Regions from separate parts of the Homo sapiens genome. Here region 1 is linked to region 2. The links come from fine-mapping of genetic effects on gene expression. A gene starts in region 2. The other region holds a variant in brackets. All regions are shown on one strand. Distances are from middle to middle.

The links. PIP is the estimated chance that this variant, and not a neighbour inherited with it, causes the effect.
Region 1: its variant is the best candidate, but not a certain one, in a credible set for the expression of TEX10 in whole blood (INTERVAL, PIP 0.66).

The regions. Positions count from the first base shown.
Region 1 is chr9:100,291,587-100,299,926 of GRCh38, forward strand. It overlaps INVS (inversin), which reads left to right. Exons shown (of 17, transcript NM_014425.5): 14 at 740-1,457; 15 at 5,331-5,560; 16 at 6,350-6,424. Among named protein-coding and RNA genes, the nearest start is that of TEX10, 57 kb to the right of the region's middle. The variant A/G (reference allele first, on the strand shown) is at 3,853.
Region 2 is chr9:100,348,254-100,356,570 of GRCh38, forward strand. It overlaps TEX10 (testis expressed 10), which reads right to left and starts at 4,689. Exons shown (of 15, transcript NM_017746.4): 1 at 4,519-4,689; 2 at 931-1,119. The coding sequence starts at 1,110. LOC105376177 (a long non-coding RNA gene) reads left to right here and starts at 4,797. Exons shown (of 4, transcript NR_188642.1): 1 at 4,797-5,328; 2 at 5,744-5,842. RefSeq lists enhancers at 3,928-3,977, 4,382-5,016 and a silencer at 4,318-4,867.

The DNA.
Region 1 (8,340 bases), 57 kb before region 2:
TGTCACACTAAAGCAATATTGTGTTTGCTTCTGTGAGGCATCCTGGGATATCTCCATCCTAAGACCAGTTTTTATAGTAATATCTCCTATGGATTGAGAATAAATGAATACCAAGCCCATGTAAGGAAGACGACTTTGGTTTTAAATTCTTATGGGAGACTCCTTACCCCATCCAGAACCTGGGCTGAAACAAACTTCCTTGTCATCTCTAAGTGCTGGAGAGCAGATTTTAAAATCTGGATTATTTCCAAAAGGTATATCCCTTCAAGAGTGCTGGCTTCATGTAGAGTCTTGGTTCCAGTTAACTTTCTTCCTGCAAGGACTCATTTTCTGTTCTTATGTAGATGTTAAAGCACAGCCAGATATTTAATAAGACCATCTGTTGCCCACTCCACCACCATTACCTGCCTAGACAGTCACTGGATCAGCTCACATACTTAATTGCTTTGATTTTCAATTTTCTCTTTGTTTTTGGCCTCCAGAGTTCCTTTATTTTCTTAAAGGCATGACAGTGCTTTCCAAAGGATATCCACTATATTTTCGTTAAGGCGAGAAGGGCTTCAGGTTATCTAACCTACCATATTGCTGGAAATAGAAGTTAAACCGTTTTTTTCCTAGTCTGTAACTGCCACTATTATGGTGATGATATAGGCTAAGTCTGAATATTTTATGTGAACATATTAGGAAAATTATCCTACTCTGCAAGTTTTGGACAATATTTTTTCTTTGTTTCCTCAAGAAACAGCCAGAGAACATTCTAAAGGCCAATCTGCTTGTGTCCACTTCAGACCCAATGAAGGCAGTGATGGAAGCAGGCATCCAGGAGTTCCCTCTGTTGAGAAGTCCAGAGGTGAGACAGCTGGCGATGAGCGGTGTGCAAAGGGGAAAGGCTTCGTGAAGCAGCCCTCCTGTATCAGGGTGGCTGGGCCTGATGAGAAAGGAGAGGACTCCAGGCGGGCAGCTGCAAGCCTTCCACCGCACGATAGCCACTGGAAGCCCAGCAGGCGGCATGACACAGAACCCAAGGCCAAATGTGCCCCCCAGAAAAGGCGCACTCAAGAGCTCAGAGGAGGAAGGTGCTCTCCGGCTGGTTCTAGCCGCCCTGGCAGTGCCCGGGGGGAGGCGGTCCATGCTGGGCAGAATCCTCCCCACCATCGTACACCAAGAAACAAAGTGACACAAGCCAAGCTCACAGGAGGGCTCTATTCACATTTGCCACAGAGCACAGAGGAGTTGAGGTCAGGAGCTAGGAGGCTGGAGACATCTACCCTGTCCGAGGACTTTCAGGTATCTAAGGAGACTGATCCAGCACCTGGTCCCCTCTCTGGGCAGAGTGTGAATATTGACCTTCTCCCCGTAGAGCTCCGACTGCAGATAATTCAGAGAGAACGAAGGAGGAAGGAGCTGTTTCGCAAAAAGAACAAGGCAGCAGCAGTCATCCAGCGCGCCTGGCGAAGGTAGGAAAATGGGGTGCTGCCGCATCTGTGGTTCTTTGTTACTGATATTCTCAACATGACATCTGTGCTCTTTGATGTTTTCCCAGTGAGTTCCATGTGGTGGCATGGTAAGGCCAATTTTATAGAGCCTACCCATGAAATTCACACCAGATCCTAGTAATTTACATTGTATAAACCATTTGGAAGATGTTTTTGCCTAGAAAGATGGGAAAGTGCTCAGGACAGCATGGGGTAAAGGAAAAAGCCCTGGGTTTGTAACCATGAAATGTGAGGTTCAGGTAAGCTCTAACAGGTTATGTGACTTTGGGCAAATCACATGGCCCCCCTGACCCTCTGCTTCTTCATCTGTAAAACAGGATTTAATAATTGTTGCACATGTCCTGTTAATATGACAGGTTGCTGGAATGAGATAATGCACGCTTCATTAATTCTAAATTACTACACATAGGAGATACTTTATTTTTATTCTTATGTCTTTACTACCCAGGAACTAGTCATACTCCAAACACCTAAACCAGGGTCTGGATATAACAGATTGAGTGACTAAACTGTATTATGTAAACCTGTCTGAGCATCTACCAAGCTCAAAATACATAGTAGGCACTGGGAGTGGGGGTGAAGGCTGTCCTAAAAGCCTGAAACAGACTCCCAATATAGTAGAGACAAATGCCGCTAGGGGATGATTATGGGAGGACTTGAGGGGTCTTATTGCTACAAATGTTCACGTCTCATAATCTCTTTCATCCTGAAAGCCTCACTAGAGCCTAAATCTAAATTAGGCCTTACAGTGATGAATGTCCAGAGAGAAGCTGGACCCATCACCAATAGGTGGGAGTTGGCCGGGCAGAGTGGCTTACACCTGTAACCCCAGCACTTTGGGAGGCCGAGGAGGGAGGATCACTTGAACCCAGGGTTATGAGACGAGACCACCCCAGGAAACACGGCCAAACTCCGTCTCTACAAAAAGTACAACAATTACCTACGCATGGTGGCACATGCCTGTAGTCCTAGCTATTTGTGAGGCTGAGGCAGGAGGATCGCTTGAGCCCAGGAGGTCAAGGCCACAGTGAGCCATCACCATGCCACAGAACTCCAGCCTGGGCGACAGAGTGAGACCCTGTCTCAAGAAAAGAAATAGGTGGAAGTTATGTCGCCGCCATCACTGGGGAGAGGAAGACGGATGGGGAGGGAGACAAGGCAAGGAAATAATGCGGCACAGGTGTATGAGATATCGAGGTTCCCGTCAGGAGAAAAAGGAAGACGTTCTCTCCTTAACATTGGCAGGGAGAAAACTAGATAGATTCCCAGGAGGTCCAGGGAGAGGCCTCCGTTCATATCATACCAGAGACTGCCTAACCCAGAGCCGGGTGATCTGGTTTGTGCTTGCACAGGCTTTGCAATGTGTTCTCCCTATGTCTGTTTCAGCTCTTGGCCATTAACAAAGTCCTCTCATGCCTGACCCCATGTGAACTCCCAACCACACCAGGAAGCCATCATGACAGGGAGCAGTATCCCCATTTTTCAGACGAGAGGAAAAACTGACTTGTCCTTTTGGTGCAGATCCAGCACTTGAACCTCTGGCTGACTCAAATCCAAGGGCCTTTCCCTTACATTATTAGTGAAGTTAGTTTTTGCTGTGGTCAAGCTAAGGGAGGTGGAGGTGGGCCCCATGCACTTTGCCTGAAAATAGGCTGGAGAAGGCTGCCTGGTTGGTGTCACACACATCAGGGTAACCAGGAGAAGGGTGATGTTACTACTACCAATTGTTAACATACTAGTATTATTTATTGGACACTTGTGCCACTGTTCAAACTAGTTTTACCTGTGCATGTAATCGTCACTGATAACCCTGCAAGGTAGGTATTGTTCTTATCCCCGTTACACAGATGAGGAAACTGAAGCACAGAGAGGTTCATCAACTCACCAACATTACAGAGCAAGTGCCAGGGCTGGCTTTGAGCCAAGACAGTCGGCCTCGAAAGCCACAGGTGGAAATGGCCATTGCACTCTGTGGGACATGCACTGGCTACCATCCAGATGAACTTTTTAAGTATTCTGGCTAAAATCTAGGATCTAAACAAGCCAGCAAGGTTTACCACGCCAGACCCCACAGCTGCTCCCTACCTGAAATGTCTCCTTCTCCGACTGTCTGACTCCTTTGAAGAGTCAGAAGCTGACAGGTCCTGTCAGTAAGTGACCAGAGTAGCAAATGAGCCTTCAGTCATTCCCCCAAGAACAGTGGGCTTATGGTCTAACATGCCCACCTGCGTAGGTAACTACACAGGCCCCCTCTGGATGTGCCATTGTGCAATTCTGAGGCCCAAAGGACTTCTGGGATTGTTGCACATTGCAGAAAGCCAAGTCTGGTGACAGTAAACACACTTTTATTGATTCT[A/G]TTATATTTTAACTACATTTTCTATTGTAAATACAGGAGCCTGAAGCGCTGTCCTGCAAGTGTATCTGATAGCAAACCTAAGCAGTGAGGGCTGGGGCAGGGGTCAGGGCTGGACACTAAGTGTTCAGTGCAGGCTGTGGTTATAGGGGACAGGTGGAGGATGGAGAAAAGGAGCTGGAAAACAGGCAGGGAAGAAGTGGGCAAAATGAACCTTGGGTCCTGAGAAAATGAAACTTGATCTTAAAATTGTCAGTTTAATAACCAAGTAAGATGACTATTTTAAAGATTGAAACAGGATCCTGGACAAGCTGAGCAGGAAAGGTGCTGCTGGGCCCACTGAGGGCTGACACCATTAACAGCTTCAGCCACTACCTGGGCTTCCCCCCAAGTTCTGTGCCCACAAGAGCAGAAGGTATGGAAGACAGCATTTCAAACAGGAGAAACTGAATTATAGCGCGGTAGTGCCATACTTTTCTCTAGACTTGGCTTTTTGGAAATGTGGTACGTATTCTAGTAGAGGGATGCCATGGTGTTACCCTCCAGGACAGAAGGAAGAGTAGTGTAGGCTGACTGAAATCAGCCTTTGGGGAAGGAGGGAGGGGCTGCACCAAGCGCTGCAAGGAGCTTTTAGCAGACTTAGGAAAAAGATTACTTCCCATTTGGTGCAGCCCAAATGGGATCACTGTAAAATCAGACATGAAGCCTGTTGCTCTCTGCAGCTACCTATAGGCTCACTAGGAATAAAGACAGATACAGATAATAAACATTGCTGCAGCTTTCCTTTGGAGGCCTCAAAATAGTTGTTGTGCTCAGTAAGTTTGGGAGTGCATGTGGGACTGAAAACATCAAATAAATCCTAGATGTAAATATAGCCATCATCCCCATTCCTCACCCACTCTAAACCCACCTCCAACAGACTTATCTTAGTAAGATGCAGCTCATACCTTTACCACTCTAAAGCCCCCTTTCGTCACCAAAGACACAGTGCTTCCACATTGTGTTACTGACTTTCTGGCACAAATGCCTCTATCTATCTCTGCTGATGCCAGTTCTGCTACGTAGAATGCCCTTCTCTGCCTGGTAAGCTCCTATTCATCTTTTAAAATCCAGCACAAATATTAACCTTGTGAAACCTTACCAAACCATCAGTCAGTCCTGCATCTGTTTGCACAACCAGCTCCTTGCTCTTGCACAGTACTCTCATGCCACACGTACCTCTTTACACAGCAGCCTGTTCCACTAGTCTGTGAGCTCCTTGAAGGCAAGGAATCATGATTGAATCCTAGTTCAGGAGGTGTTTGATAATGGAAAAAGAATTCCACATTCAACATGCTGCCGCCAAAATTAGGAATGGGAGCTTGAATGAACCTACCAGGAATTCAGCAAATACTACTCCTATAGCTTCTAGAAACCTTAAGGAAATTTAGTTTTCTCAGTACTGTGATCTTAAAGCCTCTCCTCTCCTCTGACCCAACCAGCTACCAGCTCAGGAAGCACCTGTCCCACCTTCGGCATATGAAGCAGCTTGGAGCTGGAGATGTGGACAGATGGAGGCAAGAGTCTACAGCATTGCTCCTCCAGGTTTGGAGGAAGGAACTGGAACTAAAATTCCCCCAAACCACTGCAGTAAGCAAGGCCCCCAAGAGTCCATCCAAGGGCACCTCAGGCACAAAGTCCACCAAGCACTCAGTGCTTAAGCAAATCTATGGTAACTGTCCTTCTGCCTACTTTGTAGTTCACAAGTACCCCCAGAGTACCACATCAGAATCTGAAGTAGAATTTAATTACATTGGGTAAACTTCCATTCAGATAAATTAGGTTGGTGCAAAATTAATTGTATTATTAAAAATGGTCAAAACTGCAATTAATTTTGCACCAACCTAATATTTCTCAAGCACCATTTCATTCCTGCCTCCCAGCGATACTGGGTCATAATTGTTTGGTTTCGTGAGGCATTCTAGCATCTCAGCCCAGAGTGCCCTCAAGCTTTACTGTTTAAACCTCTCCAGACCCCTGCTTGAGTCTCCTCCTTGCATTACCCATTTGGAGCATTCACGACTTAGCTAGACTCTGCCTGTATCACTTTGACTTTTCCTATGCTGAGATGTTATAGGGTTGCCCACTATGAGAATGCTCAACACCCATGCACTATAGTAAATATTTGTTCAGCAGATTAACTGCTGTAAATTGAAACATTTTCAGCTCTGCAAAGAGCCCATCCAAATAGACCCAGTAGAGTTCAAGAAGCCTTGCTGGCTCAAGAGAAAAAAAGATAAGCAAGAGCACCTTTAGAAAGATCTCCTACAGCATGAACTTTAACATTCATTTAGCAAAATCTCAGGACTTTACCCTGGGCCTACATGTTTCCACACCATACCTAACTTATCTTGACACACACCTGCAAGCTCAAGCCTTTACCACAATAAGGAATTCAGAAGTTGGTCAGGCCAAACGTATCCCTGGCCAAAGAAAAGTAACAGTTGTTGGTTCATTTCAGGTTGTTCTCACGAAGGGAAAATACATCATCCTACAAGATCTGTAAAAGCCTCTTCTGTGCTGCGTCTCAACTCAGGTAAGGCAGCCACTGCAAAGCAGATGGTGGGGAAGAACATGGGGAAGCATTTTCCTTTGTTTCATCCCCAAAGACAGAAGACATTAGAACAGATATGGCCAGGGTTTTCCAATGGTCATTTGATTTCATGGGATTATTACTGTAGCCAACATCTGTCTCCCTAAGAGGCAAATTATTTTCACAACTAAAAGCTATTATTGTTAACATTAACTCCAACAGAAATAAATGGTAGCTATTATTGATCACTTTTACACATTTTTTCACACAAAGGAAATAAATGAAAATACTGTCACTCTTCAAAGGAATACCTTGGGAATCCTTGTTCCATTTTGGTGTCACACTATGATCCCCTATTTCCTTCTCCAAGATGGGAAGAACACCATGAAGAGAACACTGAGAGCATGTACAGCCCAGGCTCAGCTGTGCGTGCTTTCCCTCATACAGGAGAAGCTCAGGGAACTTTCTTTTCAGCCACCAAGACAAGAGTGTTTTACTTAGGGCCCCCTCATTCACACCAGCATTAAATATGGGTGATAAGTTCATTGCTGTCAGCAGCTAATGCCAGGTCCAGTGTTTCTCATAGGTGGCTATGGCAACACGCTCCCCCCTGCCTCCTCGATCCACACAGTCATCCTGGAGGAACAGAGTGCAGCTGGGAAGGTGAACAATGACTGTCAGCATGAACTTTAATATTCATTTAGTTTTTTGATGGGGGGCAAAAACCTGGAGGTGGGGGACAGAGTAATTACTGCCAAATCTTTAATAAGTGTTGGACAACTCATGTAATACAGACAGGCTGATCAGGGAGTGGTGGGTGGGGTAGTTAGAAACTTTCAAAGCAATCAAGGCCTACAGTCTGTTTAAAAACAAACAAACAAAAAAACCCCTTTCATTATACCTGAGCAAATTAAAGAATCATTTCAAAAACAGAATTGTCAGATATCACTACCAGAGAAGTGGCATTTAGACAATCAAATACTAGCATAAATTAGATAACTGGATCATTTTTCAGTCTTAAGAGAAAAACAAATCCAAGACTACCAGAAATCTTTTAAAATGGTGTTTAGCAGCATATAAGTTTTTTAGTTAAGAGACTCAGAAGGGACAGAGTAAATAAATTCAAATCAATACTTAATGATTTCTTAGGACTTCATATGAACAAGCAACTTACTTGTCCTACACATATTTTTGACTGGTTTAAAATCAGACAAGGATAAAATGATCTTTTCCTAACCCCAAATTTAGGAGAACACACAGTTTTGTTAGGCTCAAGCCCACCCACATTAAGCATTAACCAGTTAATGAATATTATTGCTCTCACCCTCCAACTTGGAGAACCCCCCACCCCCGAGGTTTTAGTAGTGCCTTTACCACTTAAAAAGGAAGAAGCAGAAAGGTGGATATAGCAAAATGCCAGCCTCCTTGGGCTGTTTCTCCACATGTATTTGGGAGGCAGCAAATCAATCCCTGCTCATGTCAGTCTTCTACACCCAGCCTTGCAAACCACCCACCAAGAATCTCAGCAGAGCCTTTTATTGACACACAACACACACACACACACACACACACACACACACACAGCCTTGCAAACCACCCACCAAGAATCTCAGCAGAGCCTTTTATTGACACACACACACACACACACACACACACACACACACACACACACACCTGGGCCTATCTCTTTAACAATAAAAGAAAAGAACTCCCTTTAAAGTTCCATTCCAGTGAATGGAATAACTGTGATTATTAGTATTGGTACCCCCTGTACAAATCCAGTTTATTCTTGCTCACCTGCAGAGGGGTACACAGATGACAACTCCATTCAAGATACAGTGAAGACAGCCAAAAACAATAGTTCACATTAAAATAATTTTGTGGAAGTTATAAAACCAAGAGAGAAAAATTGAGACATA
Region 2 (8,317 bases):
CCTAGGGCTGGAAGAAATGAGAAGTGATTCCTAATGGGTATAAGTTTTCTTCTTGGAGTGATAAAAACGTTCTAAAATTAGATTAAGGTGATAGTAGCATAACTCTGTAAATATACCAAAACCAATGAATTGTATTCTTTAAATGAGAGATTTTAATTATGTGTAAATTATATCTCCATAAAGCTGTTAGATTCTTAAGCAACACTTCTCAAACTTCAATTGACTTCAAGTATTTACTACAAACCTATAATAAACTATGTGCTGTATGGGTTCAAAAATGAATGACAGGATTGTATCTTAATTCGCTAAAAAACAGCTAGAAAACTGTTCATCAAAAATTTGACACATCAAAAACATGTAAGAATTATTTCCAGATACAGCCAGGTGCCGTGGTTCACGCCTACAATCCCAGCACCTCAGGAGGCCTTGGCTGGAGGATTGCTTGCATCCAAGAGTTTGAGACCAGCCTGGGCAACATATTGCAACCTTGCCTCCACAAAAAAATAAATTAGCCAGGCATGGTGACGCTCGCCTGCAGCCCCAGCTACTTGGGAGGCTGAAGTAGGAGGATCACTTGAGCCCAGAAGGTCCTGGCTGCAGTGAGCCATGATAGCACCCCATTGTGCTCAACATGGTGTAAGAGTGAGACCTGTCTCAAAATAAATAAATAAATAAATAAATAAATCATCAAATAAATATACCAGGGAGAAACAACTGTGCATTTAGTTTAGCGAACGTTTCTGGAGGAAGTGGAAAGACACAGCTGCATGAGAGATCTTTGGGTAAAAGATAAACTCCAAACATCAATAAACCCTAAGACCCTAGGCAAACTATTTACTCTAAGAGTTTAGACAAATTTTCACAAAAATATAACATTCTACACGATTCCAAAGAAAATCTTATTTTGTCAAAACATGATTTATGATTTACCTTTATGTTAAGTTTTCTATTGTTTGTTGGAAGTGTTCCATCCTCTTTGAGTTGCTCAGGCAGATGTATAGTCTTTGTTTTAAAGTTTGTAGGAGTAGCATTTTGTAACTTGGGCTTCTTTTTACCAACTTTCAATTTTACTTTTTGAAAATCATGTTGGCGTTTTCTTTTTTTAGTCATTCTCGACTACTATAATGAAAAGAATTAATTAAAAGCAATGGATAGAGACAAGAATAAATTATGAAAAAAGGCACTTTCCAACACATACTACTGTAACATTTATTTCAATCGTAATCAAGAATCTGATTATGCTGAAAGATCAAAATATTAAAAAATGCTGTTAAGAACTATTAAAAACTCAGTTTAGTGATAAAATACTGTAACAAGGCAACAGTCTTGCCACGGTTTTGCAAAGTTTTTTGGGTCACAGAACCTTTTGTCAAGCTATATGCTAAAGGGAAACCTTCTGAAATGTGTTTTTTTTTTGTTTTCCTTTGTTCGAGTGTAGGAGAGCAGCACAGACTTCCTAGAGATGTAACTTGTATCTGCTGGTGTGCTCCTGGGCTTCGTAAGAGCCTCGGAGGAACTTCTCTAGCAATACCAAACAAAGTTGGAAAACCAATGTTATTCTTTAATGCAGCCTATAACCATTAGAAAAAGATTTATGAACCTAAGCTGAGCATGTGAAAAATGGGTAATATTCAAATACACAGCAAGGAGAATAATAGGCCTTTCAAGAGCAAGGAAAACAAGGTAAAGATCAGGTGTAGGGGATAAACCTAGCACAGCAAAAGTGAATAAACCTCAGACTAAACAGAAAACAGTATTCCCCCTTGGTCCCCAAAAAGGATAAAAAGCAGCATAAAAAGAAATATAATGTAATAGGGGGATAAGGAACAAAGACCAGCTAAGCCACTATTATAATAAATAACTCAGGCATAACACCATGCCATCTTGTACTTCCTCCCCCTCTATACCACATTCCAAACCTTGCACTTACACATGAAATCTTTGATCTGTGTCTCTTACCCATTTCCAGGCCACTACTTTCAAGAAGTCCTTTATTTCTACCATTCAATACCTTCCCCACTGGTACTCCTGCCTACTATCTAGTGTCTCCTCTCTAGTCCACTGGCCCTTTACGAAACAGCTCTCTCTGAACACAGATCTCATGACCAAGACTCAAGAGTTCTCAGCTGTTCTATTCCTCATACATAGTAAAACCTCCTTAGCAGGACATATGAGGTCCTTCCTAATGTGGCCCCATCCATCCTCTCCAGCTTTATCTTCCCACAAGCTAATCTCTATCTAAAACAATAGCCTCTTCTACCTGGAACCAGCTAAATTCTTCTTGAAGCCTTTTCCACACCTGAGAACAATACTGTACACCACTTGAATAGGGTAAGTACCTCTGGAATATATAAAACTTCTGCTAATCTCCTGGTTTATCATAATTATCCTGTGCCTGGCCATAAAAAGTGACAATGCTACACATGAGGGTATAAAAAAATGGGTAAAACGAAAGTTTCCTTTATTACAATATTAATAAAATGGCCAGTGCAATACTGAACAGCTCAAGTTCAAGGAATTCAGAAGCCAATCAGCTATGACAATATATCCAAATTTACTTAATTACAGGGTTATATTAGATCGCCATGAGGTAGGATTTCCCACAGGTTAAGAACCAATTCTACAACCAGATTGATTAGGCTTTTATCCAAACTCTGACGCCTTCCAGCTGTACACTGTCCCAATTTCTATCTACAAAATAGGGATAATCATACACAATTGTAAAACACTCAGAACTGTGCCTGGTACATGGTTAAATACGTATGCTCAAAGCATAAACATGTGCGTGTCCCTCAAGTCTCAGGATCAGGACATACCAAGCCCGGTACTAGATGCATTGTGTACCTCAGTATACAATCTGCACAGAACCATGCAAGGTAGGTGGAACTAAACCCATTTTAACAATGTACCTCAGAAAAGTTTGGAAGTCACGCCTTTATCAAGAAGTTGAAAAGGGATTCATTCACAGAACTGAGCTCTGCAAAACCACCTTTAACATACCAGAATTAACCTGAAGACTGGAAGTCTTCGTGGCAAAACAGTTTGGCTTATTTCATTTGTCCCTATTACCAAATTTTCATCTCACCCACACCTCTAGTTACCTTAGTCTTAAAAAACAAAACAAAACAAAAAAAAAAGCTGGGGGTCGGTGGGTGGGTGGGTGGGAGGGAATAAGGCCTAAAAAGAAGGCCATGATACTCACCTGGCCTCTTTTAATACAAAAATGGTTTTCATTAATTAAGCAAGCACACTTTGTGAGCTTTTCCTACAATTTTATTACTAGCTGGTACTAGACACGAAAGTAAATGGTACAGGACATTCAGAAAAATTAACTCCCTTCCTCCTCCACTCCTGTGGGTTCTATTTAGCCATTAACCACCTGATAGATCTTCAACAGTCTACTGTCAACTTCATGCCATATTATCTATCGCTTTGTATTAGTCACATTAATGCTTTCTCTGTTAGGAAAATTAAGAAGGCTGATTGACCTTCCTTGACTTTTCAAACCTAGTAATATTATTACGGGATACAAAGCATTTTCATGCGAAGAACTCTCAAAGTTCTACTAGTAATTGACTTTAACTTATAACAAAGATTTTCATAACACAGCAAATCAAAAAGTCCCACTAAGCCACTTTTACAGTAGCCGGTTTTTAGCAAAAGGTAGGAACGCCAGTCTCAGAGGAGGAGCTCACATCACTAGTCCTTAGGTTTGCGATCCCCAATAGTTTCAAAGCTGAATGTCACACATTCCTACTGTAGGTCTTTTCTAATTCCAACAAAAGGCAGATCCTAGCGTTTTTAGGATTTCAATCGAACTAAATTCCAACTATAAATAGTTTGCCTGCCACCTTCTTACCCTTCCTCATTTCCACCTTCTTTTCCAAAAAAAATCAGAGAGAACGATCGTACTGCACTCGGCCTTTGATAATTTCCTCCCCAAACCCTTAAACTCATGAGTTCCTCCAAACTCCACTGAGGGGCCAACCAGAGGCGACAGACTTCCCAAAAAGCAAATGGCCCAGGCAGGGGCGACCCCAGAAAACTGGTAGTCCCCTTCCGCTCGCTTAACTCTCCCGCCTGGGCGACCAGAGGACGGAACAGGGGACGCCAGCTCATCCCCACTCCGTATTCGGTCCTGCATCCATCCCAGAGGCGAACACACCATGGGTTTTAGGAAACCATCGTTCCTCCTACTCCAAGGGACGCCGGCCAGGACCAGAGTCGGGGAAGTGGGGCCCGATTCACACACTCCGGGCTAAAACTCTCTCGGACCCGAAACCAGGCGAACCCGCCCAGTCACCTGAAGCTCCGCAAACGCCCTAGGGGGTCCCGCCCCCGCAGTGCCGGCCGCACACCCAGGCCCAGCTCGGAGGGACGCCGCGGCCCAGACCCGGGGGACGCAAATCGTGCACGGCCGACCCTGCCCGCTTGGGCCGCGGATCGGGGGGCGACGGCCCCACCACGCTCAGTCCCGCGCCCCGGGAGGACCCGGCCCGACGGGCGACGGCCGCTTACCTGAGGACCCGGCCGCGGCCGGGGCGAGAAGCCCGAGAAGACAAGCGAGGGAGCAGAAGCCCACGGGGCAACAGCGTGCGCCGCCGACCTCAGGCTCTAGCTCCCGGAGCGTGTTTTCAAATAGCCTCGTCCTCACGCGGCCGCGTCTCCTTCCGCCGCCCGGAAATCAGGGCCCCTCCCCCTCCCTGCTGTGCTCACGTGATCGCAGCCCGCAGCCGCGCGCAACCGGGGAGGCGGGAGCGGGAGCGGTAGGCCCCGCCCACAGAGGAGGGTACCCCGCCGGAAGCCCCCTGCTCTGTGGGAACCGGAGGGAGGACAGCGCGAGGTCCCCGGACAAAGCGTGGCGCATAAGTCCGGCCCGTAACTTGGTGGGCAGGCAACTTAGGGGATGTGGGCCTGGTTATAGCTGAGCATGCTTTTCTATTCCTCCCAGACCACAGTTCTTCAGACCTGGAGCCACTTTCAGAGAAGAGTATAAGTTGCACTGAATTGAAAAAGGGAAAAGTTTAGGACTGCAGAAGATGGAATTCCTGGGGACGTTAAACTGGGCTAAGATGGAGCAGATAAGATTTCCTTAATTAGAGCAAGACACACCTAGTATCTAGAGCCTGGAAGTCTTGGTCAAGGATTCTCCCTAACATCTCAGTTTCTCAGCACTAACATTCCTGCTACTAAAATGAAGTGAGAAATTAATTTCTGAAGTTAAGTAAAGAAATAAACTAAAATTCCTAGAAAAGAGGTAAGAAGAATGAGCCTTTGAAAAATGTCTTCACAAAGACTGGCATGATGGCATGGAAGAAAGAGCCCCAGGTAAGGACTTCAGACCTTGATTCAAATTTGTGTCTACACCTCACCAGATAATTAAGACTTAGTAAAGCTAGCGAAGATATTGACCCTCATTATATTGGGTGGGAATTCAAAGGAATGATGTCTAAATCCAGGGAGACCCAAGCACTGGAACTAAAACCATGCCTGTTCCATAATCGGAGATAAAGAGGCAGCGCTAGAAACCCTGACCTCCCTTTGCTGGCAATATGGCCACATCACCACAATCTGCCTGGAATCGACCATAACCATAAATATTTGGGAGTCATTGGCATTATGTGGCATTATATTCTGTTTAAAGCTATGAGACTAGATCAGAAGAGGAAAGATTTATTGCCAACCAGACAAGTCCCTGGAACTCCAAACTTGTATCCAACAGTTTTTTCAATGTTTCCTTCAGATATCCAGTATACATCTCAAGGTCAACTTGTCCAAAACAGAGCTACTGATGATTTTCCCCTTGAAATCTACTCTTCCTACAGCTTATTCATCTCAAATAGTAAGTCTGTCCTTGCAGTTACTCAAGCAGAAACCTTTGGGTTTTTGGTTTGGCCTCTTTGTTCCACACCTCACATCTAATCCATCTGGAGATTGACTCTACCTTTAAAGACATCCTAACTTTCACCAGTTAACACACCTCCCCTGCTACCATTCTGGTCCAAGCCGCTTCTTGATCACTGCAAAAAGCCTGCAAACACATCTTCCTGCTTCCCTTATTGTCCTTCTTCCCCCTACAGTCTGGTATCAGCAGAGCAGCTGTGTGATTATTTTAAGATCTAGGTTAGATCAGATCACTCTTTGGCTCAAAACCCTTTAATGGCTCCCTATTTCACTTCGAGTAAAACCCAGAGTCCTTTCTAGGGCCTTCCCTTAGGCTGTTCTTGCATGGCTATAAAGAAATACCTGAGACTGGGTAATTTACAAAGAAAAGAGGTTTAATTGGCTCATGATTCTGCTGGCTTTACAGGAAGCATTATGTTGGCATCTGCTTGCTTTTGGTGAAGTCTCAGGGAGCTTTCAATCATAGAAGGTGAAGGGGGAACAGGCATGTCACATGTTGAAAGCAGGAGCAAGAGAGAGAGCAAAAGAAAAGAGACAGAGAGAGAGAGAGGTGCCACACATTTTTAAACAGCCAAATCTGATGAGAACTCACTATCACTAAACAAGCACCAAGCCATGAGGGATCCACCCCCATGACCCAAGCATGTCCCACCAGGCCCCACCTCCAGCATTGAGGATTACAACACAACATGAGATTTGAGCAGGGACAAATATCCAAACCATATCAGTTCTCAAGCTCTTCCATATTCTGACACAGTCTCTTACCATCTGAGCACTCCTCCTTCCACTCTCCCCTTTTTTACTCTGCTCCAGTCACACTTGCTTCTTTGCCTTCCTCAAACACCAGTGACACACTCCTGCTTTTGGACCTTTTCTTTAGCTTTTCTGTCTGCCTGAAACACTCTTCCCCAATAAGTCCATGTGGCTAACTCCCTCTCCTCCCGAGTCCACTCAAATATCTTCTCAGGGAGCCCTACCCTGACCACCTCATTTAAAATAACAAATTACCTTCTCCCAGGACTTGCAATTTCCCTTTAGAACATATCACCTTCTGGGAACATCACACTCTGGGGACTGTTGTGGGGTGGGGGGAGGGGGGAGGGATAGCTTTAGGAGATATACCTAATGCTAAATGACGAGTTAATGGGTGCAGCACACCAGCATGGCACATGTATACATATGTAACTAACCTGCACATTGTGCACATGTACCCTAAAACTTAAAGTATAATAATAATAAAATAAAAAAGAACATATCGCCTTCTAATATACCATGTAATTTACTTATTTATCATAATGATTATTTGATTCTGTCCTTCATCCACCACTAATATGTAAGTTTTACATGGGTCGTTTGTTTTATTCCCTGGTATATTCCAAGTAGCTAGAGCAGTGTCTGGCACCTAGTAGGCCCTCAATAAATATTTGTTGAATAAATGTCTAGGAAGCACCTGCTACATAGCGGTGCTGAGCAAACACTAGCTCTTATTGTTTCCCTACTTCACTGCAGCACAGGGTTTATAGACTCAGCCCATTAAGTGGGTCTGGTGGCTATGTAGCTGACAGAAGTACTCCTGGCCTGACTAAAGGAAGCAGCAGATCTTCAGCAACAGTCAACTGTTGTCATGAGGAAATGCAAATCTTCTCATTTTTCAAGCAAACCGGAAATCCAGTGTTTAAGTCCATTCTCTGCTGCTATAACAGAATACCACAGACTGGGTAGTTTACAATGAACAGAAGACTATTTGGCTAATGCTTCTGCAGCTGAGAAGTCCAAGAGTGTGGCATCAGCATCTGGTGAGGGTCATCCATACCATGACAGAAGGGTAGAAGGCAGAAGTGAGCTCTAGAGACAGAGAGAACAAATCAGGTTGAATTCATCCTATTTGTCAAGAGCTCACACCCAGGATAACTAACCCACTCCCACAATAACAATTATCTATTCATGAGGGCAGAGCCCTCATAACCTAATCACCTCTTAAAGGTCCGGCTTCTCAATACTGTTAGAGTGGCAATTAAATTTCAAAATGAGTTTTGGAGGGGACATTCAAACCATAACATCCAGAAATGTTTATAAGAAATCTGCTCTTTAAATATTGGCAAGTACATTTTTCCCCCTATTTTCGAAACACTGTGTAGGCCAAACAAAATACTTATTGCCAGTTGCCAGTTTACTGTCTCTGGTTTAGGACATAAAAAGTTTGTACTTGAAGACAGGCTTTTTCCAACTCTTAAGTGATGAACGCAACAATTGTAAGGATTGATCACTTCCCGAGCTTGAAGAGATCTTTGATAAATAACAAGCATGTAATTAATCAAGGTCCTTCACCCATGCCAGAAAAACATTATTTACAACGAACATACATTCTGGAATGTGTAGGACACTCCAATTCCAAAACTCTGTCCAGTTGGCC